2 separate regions of the Homo sapiens genome follow, and region 1 is linked to region 2. A link means that fine-mapping ties the variant in region 2 to the expression of a gene that starts in the linked region. Tissue or cell type: whole blood. Region 2 holds a variant in brackets; the other region holds the start of a gene. All regions are shown on one strand. Distances are from middle to middle.

Region 1 (5,765 bases), 35 kb before region 2:
TCATCATCTCAGTGATTGGCATACTGTGAGATGGACAGAACAGGCCTGGTTCTATATCAATAGTGTGGAGGAATTGTTTCATTTTATAGACCAGTATCGTCAGCTTCCTCAGGAACCTTTACTAACATGGATAGTGAGAATAACTAACTTAGGGGAAACATCTTTGGTTTTAAATAATGCAGAGTGGAAGAACATGTTTGGGTTGATGTAGTACCTACAGGTCACTCTTCAACAATTGCAGATAGGTATGTATCATCCACACACACAAGAGTTTATTCCTGAAGGAACAGCCAGCCTGGGTGGGTGTATAAAAGCTACTCTGAAGTCTGTCTACTCGGAAAAGCGGGACTGTCTGACTCCCCCTATAAATGCCAAGTGGGGCTCCCCAGATGAACCAGCTTAATATGCTTCCCATGCAAGCCATGTGGAACTGGCATTATGATGATAGGAATATTTACCTACTGAATATGTTTATTACCCAGGTCATGGTAAATGTCTTGGTTTGGGGAACCCCATTTTCTTGGGCACCTTATGTAAACTTACTGCTGCAAAATTGAGCTATAGTCAGTCTTACCAAATTTGCTTCCTATTATGGGCCTTTCAGATGCTAATAAAACCATTAGATTAATTAATAAGATAGACAATGATGAAAGGTACAGGGGAGAGTCAAACAGCTCCTTCCAGGAAGGTAGAAATTTTTAAATAGTTATAAAGAAATAAGACAAATAAAGAAAACATGGATAGGAATGAAACTAAGAGGAAAAAGAAAAGGGGGAAATCATGATACTCATCCCAGCATGGTGGAAATCTTTAGATGGCTATTAGATGGAAATTAGATGAATAAAATAAAAACTGATCGGATTAAAACAAAATTCTGAATATAACACTATTGAAGGTTGGGTGGACCAAAGGAAGTTCCTGTTGATCCCCCAACATTAAAGGGCCTTAAGCTAAGTTGCTGTAGTTCCTGAAGTTTGGATAAATTTTAAAAGCCAGAAGGTAAAGATATAATGAGAAACCCCACCTGGAATGCCTAGGGTGATGGTTAGACTGGTTAATCAAGGTAGCACTTGGAAAAAAGGCCAAAGTCTCCTGGCCTGAACCCTGGGTGGAAACCTGAAGACATCTGCACAAGAAAGGGTAAAATGGTCTGGAGAGAAGAGTCCTGGGACTACAACATAAAGTAAAAGTTGACAGGACTATGAAAGTTGGAATGTTAAACATGCTTTTTTTTTTTTAAGTTGTACTACCAATAAACTGAGTTCTTTCCCTACTTTGTATTGGTCACAAAAAAAAGAACACCCAATTTGGGAAAAAAAAAAAAAAAGGCAAGCAAGTTTTATTTCTGAGCAGAAATGGAGAATGAGTAAGCTCTTGCTCTAAATGCCTCTTCTCCCTGAACATAGAAGACATAGGTTTTTTAAGAACTGAGCGGCTGGGTACAGTGGCTCATGCCTTTAATCCCAGCACTTTGGGAGGCCGAGACAGGTGGATCACCTGAGGTTGAGAGTTCGAGACCAGCCTGACCAACATGGAGAAACCCCGTCTCTACTAAAAATACAAAATTAGCCAGGTATGGTGGCTCATGCCTGTAATCCCATCCATAACATTAATTTATTAGGCAAAACACTCCTTGCCATGGAAACAGAAATAAAGAATAGTCACAAAAAAAAAAAAAGAAAAGAAATAAATAAAGTCTGTTTTATCTAATACAAAAAAAAAAAAATAGCCACTTCCCAGCAATAACATGAACTCCTGGATTTAAGACACAACCAATATCAACAGGTGGAGAGCATCTTCTGCATACGTGCCCCACCTTTGAAAACTGCAGCCATTTATCACTACCAAAATAGCATTTCTTTCATTGGTCTTCCTGTAAGATTGATAAATCTTAGATAAATTAATCCAGAATTAATTGAATATAAGTTGGAATCTCAAGCGAGGGATACTAAGTGGATAAAAGTGTTGCTCAATGTACTGGACACTATGATTGATTTTATAGGCAGGAGAGTTGTCTTCTGTGGGAATCACAGACAGAGATTCAGCATGTATTCCTGCTTTAGGGAACACAACATTTCTCCTCTATCTTCCTTGTCTTGTCCTATCTGGATTAGTTCTCTCTTGTCCCTGACAGACTGAGAAACTGACTCTAATGCCTCAGAGTGCATTCATGTGAATTTATAACACAATAATGTTTATCAGCCTCTGCTGCCAGTACCGGGATTTTGCGACTGAAAGACTGTTCAAAACGTTATGATAATTTGGATTTTTAGTCTTTGGGGGCATCCTAAATAATAAGTTTAGCATCGGAGAGCTCGAGTTCCCCAAAATCTAAAATAATATTTTTTCAAATACTTGAGTGATCAGTTACAGACACTAATCTCCAAAAATCTCAATACGGGTTCTAAGGCTAGGTGAGACTATCCTCTACCCTAGAAGGACATGCACTTTAAGGACAGGCCGCTGAGATGGAGCTGGGCCTTTCCTGCAAGTAAGTGAACGTGATGGTAGGGTATACCTGACAGCATAGTTTGACAGGGGATATAGACTTTCAAGGAGAAAATAGACATGAAATAGATACATGCAGAAGTATAGTCAAATTGAGGGAAGATGACACTTAGGCCAGAGTAGTGTTTATTCACCACTCTGTGCAATCAAGCGCCTCTGAGAAGGCCTTCTTTACCGCCTTGGAACTGTCTTGGAACCTGAGGAAACTACATAACCCAGAAATCTCTGCGTCGAATGACAGCGCGTCAGAGCCAATGAGGGCTCAAAATAAAGGCGTTTCCGCGGAAACAGTATAAAGGTGGGACTTCCGGCGTCCTCTACTAGTGGCCATTTTGATTGGTGTTGGGTGTATTTTCCAGTGAGAGACCGCGGAGTGTTGGGTCGTGTAGAAGTGACTGAACCCAGAAGGTGGAGACGAGACGTTGTCCCGACTGCACAGAGGCTGCTCTGCAGCTCCTTAAAGGCGCTAGGCGTGACCCGCACCAAGGCCGGGATCGGGACCACCGTGCCCGGGTACCTGCACTGCTCGCCCCCTCCTTTCGACCCCGCTTTCCCCACCCAGTCGGATGGCGGCGGCCGCGCTGAGGCCCCCGGCTCAGGTAATTGTGGCGTCTTCCGTGCCCTCAGGTCACCTCATCTTTACCTAAGTCCAAAAGCAGAGAGGAAGCGGCGCCTGCTCAAGGTTTTACACCCTGAACCCGGCGTCGGGACACTGAGGCGCTCTCTATGGGCCCCCGTTTTTGACACCCGCGGGATGCGCTCAGGAGAGCTACAGGCACAGGGAGCGGTGCAGGCAAAGGCCTGGAGATGAACTGAGCCGAGAGGATCGTAACCTAGGGTCCACAGGCACCTGTCGGGAGCAAAGTGTGAGGCAGAGCTCCTCCTGGAAGAGCAGGCTGAGGACCGTGTATTCACCCTGAGAACGCTGGAAGCCATGGACAGCTTCCAACAAAGGAAGGAAAAGATCAATGTCCAGGCTTTAAAGGTTTCCCAAAGTCCAGTCGAAAAAGAACACAGGGGATGACTTTTGGGCCCTGGGAGGTTGAATTCTTGTTCAACCTCTACAGATCAGATAGGTGCTAAGAGATGACATTTTGTACTGAGGCGCTCAGTTCAGACAACCAACTCGCGTTTACCTAGTTACAGGGCCAAGAAAGAGTTCAGGGAGGCCTGAGCTTATCAAATCTCATCAGGGATACATTCTTGTAGCTTGTGCCTCTCCTCTCAGGAACTCCTGGCTGCAGAAGCACTTGCAGAACCTCCGCAGGGAAGCGGAGGGTGTTATTCCCTCACTGGCCCTAACTCCTATCCACATGCTCTTTAGATTGGGATGTCCTGGGATTCTTAGGTACCTTTTTTTTTTTTTTTTTAAGTTTTTTGATATGGGAACCCTGGAGGAACCTTAAACCCAGGATCCAAAGTCTGTGACACAGGATATATGGAGGTATTCCCATTTCTGTCAACCAGTATAAACATACTTGGAAGGTTAACCCAGGAGTTAGTACCAGGATGTGAAATGCTTAGAGGTGAAACTGACCAGAGGGAGGAGGTGATGTTGCCACAGTTTCATCTGGCTGTAGTCTCCTCTGGCTGTACAGTGGAGAACAGACTGTGGGGTTGAGAGAGGAGGAAATAAGATGAGAGTTGAGGCTTTTGCCGTAATCCAAGTGAGGGTTAACAGACTAAGATTCATGGCTAAGGAGATGTGGCTGGATTCAAAGTTGATATTTTGTTACAGCATCTAGGTTTCCTAATACACAAAGTAAGGGCATGAAGAGAGCAATCAGGATCCCGAGGTTTTTGGTCTTAGTAGCTGTAGCTATGGAAGCTGCATCAGCTGAGATGAGCATGTTGGTAATAAACATAATTAGAATATTATGCAAATATCAGGATGACTGTTATGGCCATATGAAGAGTCAGAGACGAATAAGTGTAGGCATCAAATGGCTATGGACATGCAGGTTGGGGTATCTGGAAAGGGATTGACACTGGAGACATCTAATATATGGTAGCTAATGTGTATGCTATGGTGAGTGAGCCATGGGTCACATTAAGGAGAACACACTTCAGATTCTGGTGGTAAATCTTTTAGGGGACCAGAAAGCAGTGGTTGAATGATGAGGACTGCATCTGTTGCTTGGGTCCCTGGGTAATGTTACTGGGCTTCCTAAACACTGGAGAGGTAGGTAAGTGACCATGATGGTAGGGTATACCTGTCAGCATAATTTGACAGGGGACATAGACTTTCAAGGAGAGAATAGACATGAAATAGATATATGCAGAAGTGTAGTCAAATTGAGGGAAGATGACACTTAGGCCAGAGTGGTACTTATTCACCACTCTGTGCAATCAAGATTTGAGATGACTTTGGTAGTGTGTGGGGGGTTTCATTACACGTGCTGAATATGCTCAGGGAGAAATATGGTCATCTGTGACAGTAGGTCTTGGGCCTTAAATGGATTAAAAACAGGACTTTTTTTTTTTTTGAGACGGTGTCTCACTCTGTCGCCCAGGCTGGTGTACTGGTGTATAGTGGCGCAATCTTGGCTCATTACAACCTCCACCTCCCAGGTTCAAGTGATTCTCCTGCCTCAGCCTCCCGGTAGCTGAGAATACAGTTGCGTGCCACCACGCCCCACTAATTTTTTTTTGTATTTTTAGTAGAGATGTGATTTCACCATATTGGCCAGGCTGGTCTCGAACTCCTGACCTCATGATCCACCTGCCTCAGCCTCCCAAAGTGCTAGGATTACAGGTGTGAACCACCATGCCCATCCAGGACTGCTCTTTAAATGGCAATGGTATTAGGTGAATGGAAGTTGGTCCGTGTTGCTGAAGGGTAAGCCATTGTAGCACAGAAGTGGAATAAGACCATGGATATCTGAAGTTACATGTGGTTTTGCATGGATGTGGAGTAATGCAAGGAGGCATTCATAGAATTATTAGGGACTACCACTGCTAATGGGAACCATGGTCATTTTGTGTTATTATTGGATCCTGTTTGAATATGTGAAGCATATTGGATGCTGTCAGCCATATTGTGGTATAAAGCCAAAAATGGAGGCCCAATATGATGTGTCACCTTGACATCTAGTGATATTGGTATGACCTCAAATGACCTGAGAACCAATTCCCTTCCCACTAGGCTCTTTTAGATAATAATCAGCATGGCCTAATAATCCTTTTATTAGGGAGACCAGGCAGAATTCCTGGTTATTATACTTTGTAGTGAGTTTCAATTTTATCCTTACCCACAG
Region 2 (5,765 bases):
GCAAGTTGTTTGCAAATGAAGGAGTTATAGACCCTGCCTTTATTCTGTCTGTTGACTCATTTAGTCATGCCCTTGACAATATGAGGCCTTCTATATCTGTGATAATGCTAAGCAGCCCCAACCTCAACCTGAACCCAACTCCCTGTTTGTGCAAATAATTCCATAGACTAGTTTTTTGGTTTGTCAGATACTCTTGTGGGTAGGCTGCATACTCAACAAAGTCAACATGTACCTCACCAGCATTTCTTTGCTTTTAGGTTGTTGGCATGGAGGGGAAGATGAGGCAGCACCTTCTAAGCAGAGCACGTGTATACATATATACAAAGACCAGGGAGGTCATAGTGGAGAAAGGCCTTATGAGTGTGGGGAATATAGGAAATTATTTAAGAACAAGTCCTGCCTCACTGAACCCAGAAGAGATCACAAACACAGGAATGTTCGCACTGGAGAAAGGCCTTATGAGTGCAGCAAATATGGGAAATTATTTCACCAAAAGCCTACACTCCATATTCATGAGAGATTTCATACTGGGCAAAAGACCTATGAGTGCAGTGAGTGTGGAAAATCATTTCACCAAAGCTCTTCACTCTTGCAGCGTCAGACACTTCACACTAGAGAAAGGCCTTATGAGTGTATTGAATGTGGGAAAGCCTTTGCTGAAAAGTCCAGTCTCATTAACCACAGGAAAGTTCACTCTGGAGCAAAGCGTTATGAATGCAATGAATGTGGGAAGTCCTTTGCTTATACATCTAGTCTCATTAAACACAGGAGGATTCACACTGGAGAGAGGCCTTATGAGTGCAGTGAATGTGGGAGATCCTTTGCTGAAAACTCCAGTCTTATTAAACACTTGAGAGTTCACACAGGAGAAAGGCCTTATGAATGCGTTGAGTGTGGAAAATCATTTCGCCGAAGCTCTTCACTCTTGCAGCATCAGAGAGTTCACACTAGAGAAAGGCCTTATGAATGTAGTGAATGTGGGAAATCCTTTAGCTTAAGGTCCAACCTCATTCACCATCAGCGAGTTCATACTGGAGAAAGGCATGAGTGCGGGCAGTGTGGGAAATCCTTTAGCCGAAAATCTAGCCTTATTATACATCTGAGAGTTCACACTGGAGAAAGGCCTTATGAGTGCAGTGACTGTGGGAAATCCTTTGCTGAAAACTCCAGCCTTATTAAACACTTGAGAGTTCACACTGGAGAAAGGCCATATGAATGCATTGATTGTGGAAAATCATTTCGCCACAGTTCTTCGTTCCGTCGCCATCAGAGAGTTCATACTGGAATGAGGCCTTATAAGTGAAGCAAATTTTGGAAATTCTCTTGCCCAGGCTTTTTGCTCCTTCAAGGCCAGAGAGTTCACACCAGATCAAGGTGTTATGAGTGTGACAAATGGGGAATATTCTTTAGCTAGAATGCTAGCTTCTTTACATAAAAGAGTGCTCCCACTGAAGAAGTGCCTTTTGAGTGCAATGAATGTGAGAAAGCCTTCAGCCCTCTCTCATTGGTTACCACAATATTTACATGAGGAAAATACCACAGATGTGGAGGTAATATTATTTTTTCTTCAATATAACACTGGAGGAAACCCCTTATGAGGATGCCATCTGCCTAAATTGAATGTCATACATCAAATAGCTGCATACATTCCAGGTATGTGGGAACTGCATAGTATTTTTCGACCTGCCCAGGTCTCTTGCTAGACTTCTGTGACTTACAGTTCTCTTCTAAAAAGCATTTCACCTTTACCACTTGGCAGGTGCCCACAGTACATCATTCGCCTAACTCATCATGATCCAGAAGTAACTTTGATTTTGTTTCATTCAACAGAGGGATTTTTTAGTATCCTCAGCACTCATTCTATTCTCATTTCTTTCTCTCCAATGAGTTAGGCCATGAACCTGACTCATTTTTGGCACAGAGGACTCTTCTGATAACTTGAAAAAATGGACTACCTTTTTCAGGGATCTTTTGGATCTCACAGAGTTCTTAAGATGGAATTTTCCAGCCTGCCAGTCATGAATCTCAGACAGCCTGCCACCTATTGCCCTGATTTGTGTTATAATAAAGGCCTTGTTGCTTAAGACACCTTCAGTCTTTGCAGGAGGGCATGGAAGCTCCAAGTGCTTTTCTCATACTTTACCCTATGCATCTCTTTATCTGCATCTTTTGTACTATTTATAATTAACCAGTAAGTTATTTTCCCTGAGTTTTATGTGCCATTCTATCAAATTAGTCAAATCCAGTTGTGGGGTCCACGGGATTTGTGGTTTATAGCTCATCAGTCAAAAGCAGAGGCTCTGGGGCTTTGATTGTCATCAGAAATGGGAGCCTCAGTCTTGGTGACTGAGTCCTCAAACTGGGGGATGTGATGCTATCTGCAGGTAGATAATGACTGAGTTGAACTGGAGGACCCCCAGCTTGTGTCCACGGGAGGATTGCTTGGTGTGTGTGGAAAACACCCTGCACATCTGGTCACAGAATTATTCCATATTGATTGTTGTTGTGTTGTGTGACAGACAATAGAGGAAAAGTTTATTTTTTTCTACACATACGCTATGGCTTCCCTTCTATTATTCCATATCTTTCAACTCCTGCCATACTATTTCTTTCTCTCCAAGTTTTTGTTCTTCCTCAGAGTTCCCATAAATGGAAAGGATACGCACTTCATTGAAATAAGAATTTCATGTTAGCCAAGTTTTCAGGATAGCCATGAGTTTCACTTAATTATCTGAGAACTTAGAGCTTACTGTCCTCTACTTACTATCCACTGAGACTTAATGTGTTCTTGGCCATCACAGAAACTTTACTAGCTACTTATGCCATTGTCAATGGATAACTCTCTGAATCCACATTAATAACTTTGTAATTAGCTTAGTCCTCAGCTGTTTTTCAGAGATAATCCCCAGTCTTCATGCAGACACTATCACTGCACCTACAGGTGAAATGATAATCACTTCCTAGCAAGGAGGTTGGATCATGGAATACAAGATAATTTCTCAGGAATCAGATGGTCTTATTCCACACCTGCAGGAATGTCAGCATTGCAACCACCATGGCAAATATTGATTTAATAAACAATTACTATTCCCAGATAAGTGTCAAAATCTTAGAAGAAATTGTCATATCTTAGACAATTTAGAAGTGATGGAGGGTGGATGATGAGAAATTATCGCACCACTGCACTCCAGCCTGGGCGACAGAGCAAGACTCTGTCT[C/CAA]AAAAAAAAAAAAAAAAAAAAAGCTTTACTCACATAAAGTGAAGAACAAGAAGACTTTTTTGAGTAGATGTTTAGTGTCCTTATAACATTTTTTGTATATGCATTTTTATCCTTTTGGGAACATGATTTACAAATGCGAGCTGCAGGGCTATTGCATTAACGTGTTGAATGCAAGAGTTAAAACTTCCTGTCCCATTTAGTGAATGGAAAAATACTTAAGTTACATGAATAAAAATTGTAAATTACAAATAGCAAGATAGTTAAGGATGTAAAACATGTCAATCCCTAAATGTTACTTAATGACATCATGTTTTATAGGTACATTTTATTTTCAGTTACTAGTATTTTATTCCCTTGCTGGAAAGATGTCCAGTGATTCTGAATCAATACAGGTGTGTGGGATGTCATCTAGAAGTCATAAAATGGCTTATTCAGATTAACCATGTTATGACCACTCACACTCGCTGATACATATCTTCCTGTCACTTCCGTGGAGAGTGAAATTTTCTCTTTTATTTTTTATTCTTTGAGACAGAGTTTCACTCTTGTTGCCCAGGCTGGGGTGCAATGGCGTGATCTCAGCTCACTGCAACCTCCACCTCCCAGGTTCAAGTCATTCTCCTGTCTCAGCCTCTAGAGTAGCTGGGATTACAGGTGCCCACCACCATGCCCGGATAATTTTTGTATCTTTAGTAGAGACGGGGTTTTGCTATGTTGGCCAGGCTGGTCTCAAACTCCTGACGTCAGATGATCCGCCTGCCTCAGCCTCCTAAAGTGCTGGGAGTACAAGCGTGCGCCACCACGCCCAACCAAAATTTTCTTGATAACACCCTAATTATATTCCCACAAAACCTTTGTAGTCAGAGAAAATCTGTAGTTTATAAAGACAAAGTTTTTAGTAATGAGAGCACTTTTAGGATCTGTAGGCTCTTGTCTGTATAATTAATACAACATTTCTTTTTTTTTTTTTTTTTTTTTTTTTTGAGACAAAGTTTTGCTCTTGTTGCCCAGGCTGGAGCGCAGTGGCACGATCTTGGCTCCCTGCAACCTCCGCCTCCTGGGTTCAAGCGATTCTCCTGCCTCGGCCTCCCGAGTAGCTGGGATTACAGTTGTCCACCACCACACCCAGCTAATTTTTTGTATATTTAGTAGAGACGAGGTTTCACCATGTTGACCAGGCTGGTCTTGAACTTCTGACCTCAGGTGATCCACCCGCCCCAGCCTCCCAAAGTGCTGGGATTACTGGCGTGAGCCACCGTGCCCGGCCTGTTCTGCTTATATATGACTAAAATTTATGTGAAAATTTCTGTATAAGGCCAGGCTTGGTGGCTCACGCCTGTAATCCCAGCACTTTGGGAGGCCAAGGTGGGTGGATCACCTGAGGTCAGGAGTTCGAGAACAGCCTGACCCACATGGAGAAACCCCATCTGTACTAAAAATACAAAATTAGCTGGGCTTGGTGGCGCATGCCTATAATCCCAGCTACTTGGGAAGGCTGAGGCAGGAGAATCGCTTGAACCTGGGAGGTGGAGTTTGCGGTGAGCCGAGATCACGCTGTTGCACTCCAGCCTGGGCAACAAGAGCAAAATTCCGTCTCAAAAAAAGAAAAAGAAAATTTCTGTACAAAATATTTAGATTTCCTTCCTATTCTCAATATATTAGTGTGCTTTATCATTCTAACTTTTTGGTATTTTGATTATGCTAGTAATTTCTTAGTTTTGTTCAATTTTAATGTGATATATAAATCAATATATTCCCTGATAAATTTTTACATAATTTATGTAAATTTGTTGTTGTTGGCCGGGCATGGTGGTTCACACCTGTAATCCCAGCACTTTGGGAGGCTGAGGCAGACAGATCATCTGAAGTCAGGAGTTTGAGACCAGCCTGGCCAACATGGCGAACCGTCTCTACTAAAAATAAAAAATTAGCCGGGTGTGGTGGCATGCACCTGCAGTCCCAGCTACTCGGGAGGCTGAGGCAGGAGAATTGCTTGAACCTGGGAGGTGGAGGTTGCAGTGAGCCAAGATGGCTCCACTGCACTCCAGCCTGGGTGATAGAGTGAAACTCCGTCTCAAAAAAATAAATAAATAAATAAATTTGTTGTAGTATATTTTCTCCTTGAATTACTTACTCTAAAACAAGTAACTTTACTAACCTCTACTTGGTCTACCTGGTTAATTAATTCTTTCTTTTTTTTTTTTCTTTTTTTTTTTTTTGAGACGGAGTCTCACTGTGGCCCAGGCTGAAGTGCAGTGGCACAATCTCAGCTCACTGCAACCTCTGCCTCCCAGGTTCAGGTGATTCTCCTACTTCAGCCTCCCGAGTAGCTGGGATTACAGGTGCCTGCCACCACGCCTGGCTAATTTTTCTATTTTTCGTAGAGATGAGGTTTCACCATTGTTGGCCAGGCTGGTCTTGAACTCCTGACCTCAGGTGATCCAGCCGCCTCGGCCTCCCAAAGTACTGGGATTACAGGCGTGAGCTACCATGCCCAGCCTAATTAATTATTTTTCAAATATCTTTAAACTGATCCAATTCATGATC

What was found. PIP is the estimated chance that this variant, and not a neighbour inherited with it, causes the effect.
Region 1: it holds the start of ZNF776, and the variant in region 2 is fine-mapped to the expression of ZNF776 in whole blood (INTERVAL, PIP above 0.99).

The regions. Positions count from the first base shown.
Region 1 is chr19:57,743,985-57,749,749 of GRCh38, forward strand. It overlaps ZNF776 (zinc finger protein 776), which reads left to right and starts at 2,831. Exons shown (of 3, transcript NM_173632.4): 1 at 2,831-3,107. The coding sequence starts at 3,075. RefSeq lists an enhancer at 2,843-2,892.
Region 2 is chr19:57,778,494-57,784,258 of GRCh38, forward strand. It overlaps ZNF586 (zinc finger protein 586), which reads left to right. Exons shown (of 3, transcript NM_017652.4): 3 at 258-2,123. The coding sequence ends at 1,303. Among named protein-coding and RNA genes, the nearest start is that of ZNF586, 12 kb to the left of the region's middle. The variant C/CAA (reference allele first, on the strand shown) is at 3,219.